Linked DNA regions of Homo sapiens: region 1 is linked to region 2. The links come from fine-mapping of genetic effects on gene expression. A gene starts in region 2. The other region holds a variant in brackets. All regions are shown on one strand. Distances are between the middles of the regions.

Region 1 (5,371 bases), 36 kb before region 2:
AGTTGCTGATCCCAAAGATAACAGGGGAGGAAGTTTCAGCTGAGAAGATGGAGCATGCAGTGGAAGAGGTGAAGAACAGCCTGCAGCTCTTTGAGGAGTATTTTCTGCAGGATAAGATGTTCATCACCGGGAACCAAATCTCACTGGCTGACCTGGTGGCCGTGGTGGAGATGATGCAGGTGTGGAGTGGATTGGAGGAGGGTTAGACCCTGGGCAGAGGTAGGACTCCTCTGTGACCAATGGGGCCATCACTTGAGGATAGGCTGGTGAGGCGGGAAAGGCAGGCAGAGCTGCCATGGGGGCTGCGGGAACCAGGCCTGGGGGCCTGGACTCAATCGGGGCAACAGGAAGCACAGAATGTTATGAATCAGGAAGGATCACAGTTCTCCACACTTGACAAAGATTCTTCGGTGTGGGAGGACCCGGAGGGTGAGCCTGGGATAGAGAAGAACACTGCATTTCCTGCTCAATCCACCGGCATCCCAGATACCTCCTCCTCTTGCTGGACTCTCCAGGAAATGTTCACTGGCTTCCTGGGTGTCCTTCTGGCCCTGCCTGTTTCCCAGAGCTCCAGACAGACAGCTCTGGAGGACAGCTCTCGTGGCTGGGTCTGAGGGGCATCCACTGTGCATTTGGAGGCACACCTGAGTGTGGGGCATTTATGTGGCCTCTACATGCAGGGGAGGGTGACCAGTTCTGCTTGTCAAGACACTGGCCAGGGTCTCAACTGGCCATCCTGCACACCAGCTAGGGCACTGCACACTGACCAAAGAGACTAATTTGCATATCAGCCAGAGATATGCCCGAGAGGAGGGACCTGGGGTCCTGGTGGATTGACCAGAAAATGCAGTATTCTTTTCCTTATCCCAGAGATCTCTGGCTGATATGAAAATTAGTCTCCTTGGTCTGTTTGCAGGGCAGACCAGCACCAGGAAAAATCATTCTGGCCTGCCCCAAGGGTTCAGCCATATGCTTCGTCCCCACCCCTTACATTTCACCCACACACACCCATTCTTGGGCTTCCCAAAGATCTTGGGTGCAAACCAAACTCTTAGTAAGCCAGCGAAACTGCAGGGTAGACTGCCCGCCAGGTCTCCCATCCTAGCCCCTGAGCTTGATCACAGTGGGAGGCTAAACATGGAGGAAAAAACCTGAGTTCTCTCCCTCATCCACATATACACACCTGGGATAAGGGGTCTCCCTGGAAGAAGGCAGGATTCATGCGAGGTCGCAGGCTGGAGAAGTGGGAAGTGCCTGGGCCAGGAGCCCTCTCAGCATGGTTCAGAAGGCTTGGAGCAAGAAGACCAGTGACTGAGGACTCTGAGGGATTCTGGATCCTCCATCCCCACCTACATCTATTACATAGTCTGTGACCCCTTGCTCAGGCCTTGGGGGTCAGCAGCCTAATTCTTTGCATAGGTAGATGTTAGGGACGTGGGCCTGAGGCTGTGGGAGAGGACCCAGGTGGGGCTGGTCCCCAGGCTGACCACGTCTTTGTCTTCGTCTATCTACAGCCCATGGCAGCCAACTATAATGTCTTCCTCAACAGCTCCAAGCTAGCTGAGTGGCGTATGCAGGTGGAGCTGAATATTGGCTCTGGCCTCTTTAGGGAGGCCCATGATCGACTAATGCAGTTGGCCGACTGGGACTTTTCAACATTGGATTCAATGGTCAAGGAGAATATTTCTGAGTTGCTGAAGAAGAGCAGGTGACCCTAGGCGCAGCCTGTCCCGCAGGGCCTGGCTGGCTTAGCAATCTGAGCCACCTTCCTTAAAGGAAATGTTAAAAAAAAAAAAACAAAAAAACAAAAAAACAACTGTTCTTTGCCTAATAAAGAACTGGAACAACCATCACAGCTGCTGAGCAGCAGACAGTTGGCATATGCATAGGGTCTGATGTGGGAGTGGGTGGTGGTTACAGATCCTTCCAGTTTCCAAAAAGAATTTTAAAAGTAAAGGGTTAAATATGGTTACATTGTGAGTAATAATAGTTGGTGACTTCAATACCCCACTTTCAGTAATAGAAAAACTACAGAAGACCATCAAGGAAATAGGGAATTTGAAAAGCACGATTAACCAATCGCATACACTAGACATGAACAGAACGTTCCACCCGACAGGAGCAGAATAAGCATTCTTCTAAAGAGCACATGGAATATTCTCCAGTATAGAGCATATATTTGGTCCTAAGTCTCAAATTTAAGATGATTGAAATCACACAAAGTATGTTCTCTGGACACAGTGGAATAAAGTTAAAAATCAAGAACAGAAGGAAAACTAGAAAACTCACAAGCACATAGAAATTAAACAGCACACTCTTAAACAACAAATGGGTTAAAGAAGAAATCACAAGGGACATCAAAAAGTATCCTGAACAAATAAAAATGAAAACACAACATGCCCAGATTTATAGGATGCAGCAGAAGCAGTTCTAAGAGCAAAATTTATAGCTGTAAACACATAAGTTAAAGAAGAATGATCTTGAATCAATAACCTAACTTTACACCTTAAGGAACTAGAAAAATAAGAGCAAACTCAACCCAACACCACTAGAAAACAGGAAATAATAAAGATTAGAATGGAGATAAATGAAATAGAAAATAGAAAAGCAATAAAATCAATAAAACCAAAAATTGGATCTTTGCAAAGATCAACAAAATTGGCAAACCTTTACTTAGAATAGCCAAGTGAAAAAAATAAGGGTCAAATTATTCACCAAGAAAGAAAGTGGAGGCTGGGTGCAATGGCTCACACCTGCAATCCCAGCACTTTGGAAAGCAGAGGCAGAAGGATCACTTGAGGCCAGGAGATTGA[G/T]AACAGCCTGGGTAACACAATGAGACTTTTTTCTAAAAAATATATTTTTTAAAAAAATTAGCTTGGTGTGGTGGTGCAAGCCTGTAGTCTTAGCTAACTGGGTGGCCGAGGTGGGAGGATCACTCGAGTCCAAGAGTTCAAGGTTACACCGAGCTATGATTGCACCACTGCACTCCAGCCTGGGCACATAGAAGAACCTTATCTCAAAAAACAAACAAAAACAAAAATGAAAAAATGAAATGGAAACCAGAAAGAAAGAAAATGGAGACATCACATTGGTCATAGAGAAATTCAAAAGTTTAGAAATACTATGAATAACTATATGTGGACAATTTAGACAACCTAGATGAAATGGGAAAATTTTAGAAACACACAATCTACCAAAACTGACTTAAGAAGAAAGATAAAATTTTAATAGGCCTGTAACAAATAAAGAGATTAAAATATTAATTATTTTTAAAAATTCCACAAAGAAAAGCCCAGGACCAGATGGCTTCCCTGGTGAATTCAACCAAAAGCTTGAAGAACTAACACAAAGCCTTCACAAACTCTTCCAAAAAAATAAAACAGGAAGAAATATTTTTCAACTCATACTATGAGGCCAGAATTACTCTGATACCAAAGACAGAAAAAGACATTACAAGAAAATAAAGTTACAAAGCAATATCCTTATAAATATAGATGTAAAAATCCTCAGCAAAATATTAGCAAATCAAATCCAGCAGCATATTAAAAGGATCATACACCTTGACCAGGTAGGATTTATCCCAGGAGTACAAATGCAGTTCAACATACAAAAATCAATCAGTGTAGCATACCATGTTAATAGAAAGTCACATGATCATCCTAATGCACAGAAGGCATTTGACAAAACCTAACATCCTTTTACGATAAAATTACTCAGCAGATGAAGACGAGAAAGGAACTTCCTCAACTTGACAAAAAGCATCTATGAAAAACCTATAACTAACACCATACTTCATCCATTGTGAAAGATCAAGCGTTTCCCCCCTAAGATCAGGAACAGGACAAGAATGTTCATTCACACTACTTCTACTTATTAGGGCAATTAGGCAAGAAAAAGGAACAAGGTGGAATCTAGATCAGAAAGAAAGAAGTAAAACCATCTCTATTCACAGATGACATTACAGAAATTCTTAACTCACTTAAAAACCATTAGAGCTAATAAACAAGTTCAAGGCTGGGCACGGTGGCTCACACCTGTAATCCCAGCACTTTGGGAGGCCAAGGCGGGCAGATCATGAGGTCAGAAGTTTGAGACCAGCCTGTCCAATATGGTGAAACCCCGTCTCTACTAAAAATACAAAAATTAGCCGGGCGTGGTGGCGCATGCCTGTAGTCCCAGCTACTCAGGAGGCAAAGGCAGGAGAATCACCAGAGCCCAGGAGGTGGAGGTTGCAGTGTGCCAAGATCAAGCCACTGCACTCCAGCCTGGGTGACTGACTGAGACTCCATCTCAATAAAATAAAATAAGTTCAGCAAGGTTGCAGGGTACAAGATTAATACACAAAAATCAATAGTATACATTTGCAATAAAGGATGAAAAACAAAATTAAAACCACACTTCCATTTATAATACCATCAAAAAGAATAAAATAGAATAAATTTAACCAAAGAAAAGCAACATTTCAACACAGCAAACTACAATGTGCTGTTGAAAGAAATTAAAGAAGCGCCACCAAGCAATCTGACCTGAGAAAACATGCAGGTTCAACAGAATGAGTCCTGCTCTTCAGCAAGCACCCATCTTGTGTTCAAGCTGGGTCTATGAGGCAAGTTTGGCAACATAGACATGGACATGCCACCAAATCTGTAATGTAGAAAAGGCCAAGGGAAGGTGGATCAATCATTGGAAACATTCAACAATCCATGGAAGAAATGTTAAAAATAGAATCTCAGGGTCTGATGAAGTTGGAATATCACTCTTCTATGTATTTCGGTTGGAATCTGTTGAACGATTGGATAAAGTAAAAGTATAGGGAATTATTAGGTAGCATTAAATGTGTAATAAATGTAAAGAGAGGGTGCAAGTGCATACAAGGAAGTGTACGCTACTGGGTTTCTGTTGAATTGTTCATGGAAGACCATCAGCAGTTCAATTCCAAAAGCTTGTCTTAAAATTAGCTGGGTGTGGTGGCGTATGCCTGTAATCCCAGCTACTCAGGAGGCTGAGGCAGGAGAATCGCTTGAATCCGGGAAGCAGAGATTGCAGTGAGCCAAGATCGCACCACTGTACTCCAGCCTGGTGACAGAGCGATACTCTGACTCAAAAAAAAAACAAACAAACAAAAAAAAAACTTGTCTTGAGGGACTACGCCAGCCTTAACAGCTACAAACATCATGGAGGAAGCTGTCTGCCCATTAGAAGCCCAGAGCCCAGAGGGACAGACTAGAGCAAATCCTCTCCCTCATTGGAGCTAGATGGGAACACAAATCTATCTGATAACTAACATGCAATTTTACATCTCTTACCTTGTTTAATCCTCACAACCACCCTGATGAGTAGTAGTATTATGCCCATTTTGTAGATGAAGAAA
Region 2 (5,371 bases):
CCTGGTCCCGCAGGAACTTGTCCTCGAGCAGCTGCAAGCATCCGTCCAGCTCAGCCAAAGTGGCCGCCAACATCTCGGGTGGCACTGACTCGCCCAGGAACACAGGGATTATTATCTGGTGGGCCGACAGGCAGAGAGAGGGGTCAGGGTCTGCCCAAAGCCCATCCTGGTTCCCACCATCATCCTATCATCACCAGTCCTTGGGATTTCTGCTCACCTCTGCTCACTTCTTTCCACTCATAGCCACCAGTAGCTCTCATCTCCTACTCAAACAGGGACAGCCTCCCCCTTCTCCCTGGGTCCTCACACAAGGCAACCAGTGGGATCCTTCTGTAATCTCAATCTGCCCGTACCCTCTCTTGCATAAAGCCTTCCATGGCTCCCCACTGCCCTCATGAGAAAGGCCTCAACACAAAGCCAGCCTTCTCCAGTGCGGTAGCCATCCCCTCCCCACTTTTCACCTCACCTCCTACTACCCCCCACTTATCAAACGGGAATGTGTGTATGAATCCTCCCTGGAATCTGGTTACAGTTTATGCTCCCAATCAGTAAGGTCAGAGTGGGGCCTGAGCCTCTGCATTTCCAACAAGCTCCCTGGTGATGCTGATACTCCCAGTCCATTGACCACACTTTGGATAGGAAGAGTCTACACTTGCTCTACTCAACTTCTCTCCATTCTGTCCTCAAACACACCACGCTTCCTTCCCCACCAGCTGGAGGGGGCTCTGCTCCCAGGCCCCAGAGGTCAAGGCAGACACAGTTAAGGTGTGGAAACCTCCTTATTGCCCGATGGATCCTCCAGAGAGGCGGTCCCTTACTTTCAGCAGGGCGCGTGTCTACCTGTTTCATGCTGTCTCACACACAGGGTGCCACCCCTGTGCTGGGCACTGGGTAAGTGCTCTGTACATATTAATTAGGAGTACTCATTTCAAAAATATGTGTGCCTTTGATAAATAAAAACAGTATGTGCATGTTGTGTTGGTGTGTGCTTCCTTGATTATTACTGAAGTTAAACATGTTTTCATCCATGTATTGACCATTTCTCTTTGTCCTTCAATGAAACCTCTGCTGATTTCCTTCGCTCATTTTTTTCCTGTGTCTTCGTCTGATGAGTTTCTCTTCTTTTTGTTTGTTCGTTTGTTTGTTTTGAGACAGTCTCGCTCAGTGGCCCGGCTGGAGTGCAGTGGTATGATCTCAGCTCACTGAAACCTCTGCCTCCAAGGTTCAAGTGATTCTCCTGTCTCAGCCTCCCGAGTGTGCCACCGCACCCAGCTAATTTTTGTATTTTTAGTAGAGACGGGGCTTCACCGTGTTGCCCAGGCTGGTCTCAAACTCCTGACCTCAACTGATCCGCCCATCTCTGCCTCCCAAAGTACAGGGATTACAGGCGTGAACCACCACACCCTACCTGTCTGATGGGTTTCTAAGAACATCTTAAAGGACATTACTTCCTTCTGACGTATCTTTTACCGAGATCCTTCCCAGTTTTTTGCTTAAGGTTAATCCATTTTTTCCTCCACAAAGTAACCTTGTATATGTATTGGTTTTTTCTTTGTTGAGTTCTCCCACTGTTCTGAGGCTTAGAAAGTCCTTTCATACCCAGACATCAGAGAAACAGATCCCGTGAGAGTAACTGGGATTGCAGGTGTGGGCCAGCATGCCCTGTTATCACTCCCTTTCTCTGAGTCAGCTTTTCTCTCTCAGTCTCGTCTACTCCTCGAACTCAGGAAATGTCACTACAGGTGGCCCCAGCTCCCGTTTACCTCCCCATAGGGAGCTCCTCTCTCCAGTTCCAGTTTCAAAACTCCCAAGGAAGCATTCTGGTTCACTCGCTTGGGCCACTGGCCAGAGGGATGGGATACTCTGAAAGATTCAGCTAGAGTCCCGGGCCCAGCCCTGGACCATCACTGTGCCCCCTGGTGAGATGCCAGGGCTGGGATTCAGGGAGAAGAAAGGAGGTTCCCGGACAGTCATTCCTGCCTCCCGCGGCTGCGGGCTCCCTGCCCCCATCCTGTGCACGAAGTGGGAGCTCCCGCTGTCTGGCAGCTCCCGCTGTCTGGCAGCAGCTGCTCTGCAGGGGACAGTCTGGACGGCAGAAAGTTCATCCTTAACCCCAGCCTTCCAGTCAAGGTTCCCACCAGTTTGGGACACCTGCAAGTGTCACATCCCACTGGGTGAAACTCTAAGATCCCTTTTAGGGGATCCCATTCGCTCCCTCCCTTCCGCCACCATGCAGCGCCGAGAAACAGAGCTCTGAACGAACCCTCAGATGTCCGTGCGCTGGGGCCTTTCCAGGACGGCGGCGCCCAGTCGTTTCTGGGTCAGGGCGACGCCTGGAACTGGGCAGGGTCCCTGGCACCGGGATCCCGAAAAGCAGACCTGCTTCTCCCTGTCCAGCCGGTTCCCCTTCCCCTTGCAGTCGGCCCCCTGCATCCGCGTCCTCCCTGCCAGTCGAGGGTCCCCAGCTCCAACTCCACCCTCCCAGCTGTGCGTTCATAGCGACCGCCCTCCCTGTAGGGACGCACGGATCTGGTGGTGGAGTCTTGGCCGGCAGGACTGGACAGGAACCGAAGGGGCGAGGCGGGTCCGGGGGTGGTGCGCTCCAATTGGGTGCTGTCCCCAGGGGGTGGGGCCTGATCCCCTATTTCCCGGCGCGCCGGGATCCTGCCACAGCTGCTGCCCACACCGCGCTCAGCGCCTTCACTGCCATCCCCGCTGTCCTTGCCGCCCCCGCCATGGGCCTAGAGCTGTTTCTTGACCTGGTGTCCCAGCCCAGCCGCGCCGTCTACATCTTCGCCAAGAAGAATGGCATCCCCTTAGAGCTGCGCACCGTGGATTTGGTCAAAGGTGGGCCCAGCCCGTTTCCCCGCGTGTCCACAAACCCAGTGCACCCCCAGGCCCCCGCCCTGCTCTGCCCTGAGCGTCTCGCCGCCCGCACAGCCCCCTCACCTCCTCCTGCAGCGTCTGCCACCAGAGAATGCTGTGGACTGAGTGGCCTTGGAGGGATCACAGCCTCTCTGAACCTTAGCTTGCCTTCTGAAAAGGAGGATAATGTTACCTTCTGCTCTGTAGGGATGGAAAGAAAATACTGAATGGAGTTGACAGAGTTCTTGCGTGGAATGCACGCATATAAATTCACAAAGCCCAGAAGACCTTGGGAAGAAGGACATGCTGTTGTGAGAATTAAGAGATGGGAAGAGATGAGCCACCCCAGTTTGCCTCCCCTCCCCTGGCCCACCAGAGTCCGGCTAGAAAACTTCTCTTTATCCACCTGCTGCACCTGGCCCCACCCACCAAAGCCCCCCAGCTGCCCCGGAATGTGGCAGGGCAGGGAGGCCCAGCCAGGGAGTGAGGCTGATCCAGGCCTCTAGTCCCAGACCTTGCTGTTTCTCAGGGCTGTGGGGCTCCGCTTGGGGAGGAGGAGGGAGGGTGTAGAGGTGCAGCGTTTTTATTCTGAAGACCTTTTCTGACTTCTTCCTCTTCAGGGCAGCACAAGAGCAAGGAGTTCTTGCAGATCAACAGCCTGGGGAAACTGCCGACGCTCAAGGATGGTGATTTCATCTTGACCGAAAGGTGCCCTCCTTCCCTCACCCCTCACCGCATCCGGAGCCCATGTGACCTTGGCTCTCCCCACTGGCCCCGGGCCCCAGTGGCCCTCCCATACCCCATGGGGCAGCGAGGGAGGGGAAAGGCGAGGGATCTGGCCGGGCGCGGTGGCTCACGCCTGTCATCCCGGCACTTCGGGAGGCCAAGGCGGGCGGATCACGAGGTCAGGAGACCGAGACCATCCTGGCTAACACCGTGAAACACCGTCTCTACTAAAAATGGAAAAAAAATTAACCGGGCGTGGTGGCGGGCGTCTGTAGTCCCAGCTACTCTGGAGGCTGAGGCAGGAGAATGGTGTGAACCCAGGAAGCGGAGCTTGCAGTGTGCTGAGATCGCGCCACTGCACTCCAGCCTGGGCGACAGAGCTAGACTCCGTCTCAAAAAGGCCGGGCGCGGTGGTTTACGCCTGTAATCCCAGCACTTTGGGAGGCCGAGGTGGGCGGATCACGAGGTCAGGAGATCGAGACCATCCTGGGTAACACGGTGAAACCCTGTCTCTACTAAAAATACAAAACATTAGCAGGGCGTGGTGGCGGCCGCCTGTAGTCCCAGCTACTGGGGAGGCTGAGGCAGGAGAATGGCGTGAACCCAGGAGGCGGAGCTTGCAATGAGCAGAGATAGCACCACTGCACTCCAGCCTGGGTGACAGAGGGAGCCCACTCCAGCCTGGGCGACAGAGGGAGACTCCGTCTCAAAAAAAAAGGAAAGAAAGAAAGGAGAGGTATCTGGGGAGAAGGTACAGCTTGGGGTGTGACCGGGATGAGCAGGGGCTGACAGAACATGTCCCCCCACCTCTCATCTTCCAGCCTTTTCTGAGCCGCAGGGCCTCTCCACTCCCAGACTGAAGGGTATTAGAAGAGAAGACAAGGGAACATTTTTCCACTGTTGCGCATTTGTTCAACAAATGCTAGCTGAAAAGAGCCTCTAGTGACTTGTTGCAGACTACCCAATCTACCCAGGCCGGGCCTAGAGGCCAATGCCATGGCCCAAGGGCACAGCTCATGGTGAGGTCCAGCTGCTGGGCAGGAAAAGGACAAGAGGTCAGGTGGCTGCAGAAGTGATGGCTGGGGGCCTGTCAGACGGGGGCCAAAGACATTCCTCCCCTCGTGATCCCTGACCCAAGCGCGTGGACATGCAAGGGACTCCACGGAGCATCCACTGTGTGCCAGCCCCATGCAGGGTTCCAGGGGTCCAGGGAGCCTATTCTGAGCTGCACCGCCTCGGACAAGTCACTTGACCATTCTGACCTTGAGTTTTCTCTTGTGCTAAAAGGCTAACAGGAGTGTCTACCTCACAGGGCGGCTGCTGGCATATCACAGAGATGAGGTTCTCAAAATGCAAAGCAGAAGGTCCAGCCAAGAGTCGGTGCCCAAGGCAACAAAGACAGGAGGAGACTCGTAGGAGGAGGGGGTGGTGTTGGGGAGCTGGAGATGGAGGGCGAGGCTGGAGGGCAGTCCTTCAAATGCAGAGAAGCCCCCGGGCCCCACTGGCAGATGGGAGCAGTTAGGGGTAAATGCCTGGTGCCAGTGTCCTTATAGCCACTGCCCATTTGTTCCCAGCTCGGCCATCCTGATTTACCTGAGCTGTAAGTACCAGACGCCGGACCACTGGTATCCATCTGACCTGCAGGCTCGTGCCCGTGTTCATGAGTACCTGGGCTGGCATGCCGACTGCATCCGTGGCACCTTTGGTATACCCCTGTGGGTCCAGGTGAGGAGAGCCATCTGGAGAGTGATTGGCCATCAGGGAGTAGTTGGCAGTAGGC

Evidence for each region. PIP is the estimated chance that this variant, and not a neighbour inherited with it, causes the effect.
Region 1: its variant is the best candidate, but not a certain one, in a credible set for the expression of GSTT2B in caudate (GTEx, PIP 0.81).

The regions. Positions count from the first base shown.
Region 1 is chr22:23,994,883-24,000,253 of GRCh38, reverse strand. It overlaps GSTT4 (glutathione S-transferase theta 4), which reads left to right. Exons shown (of 5, transcript NM_001358664.2): 4 at 3-179; 5 at 1,515-1,853. The coding sequence ends at 1,712. Among named protein-coding and RNA genes, the nearest start is that of GSTT4, 7.9 kb to the left of the region's middle. The variant G/T (reference allele first, on the strand shown) is at 2,814.
Region 2 is chr22:23,958,496-23,963,866 of GRCh38, reverse strand. It overlaps GSTT2B (glutathione S-transferase theta 2B), which reads left to right and starts at 2,672. Exons shown (of 5, transcript NM_001080843.4): 1 at 2,672-2,847; 2 at 3,486-3,573; 3 at 5,166-5,316. The coding sequence starts at 2,736. RefSeq lists an enhancer at 3,786-4,451.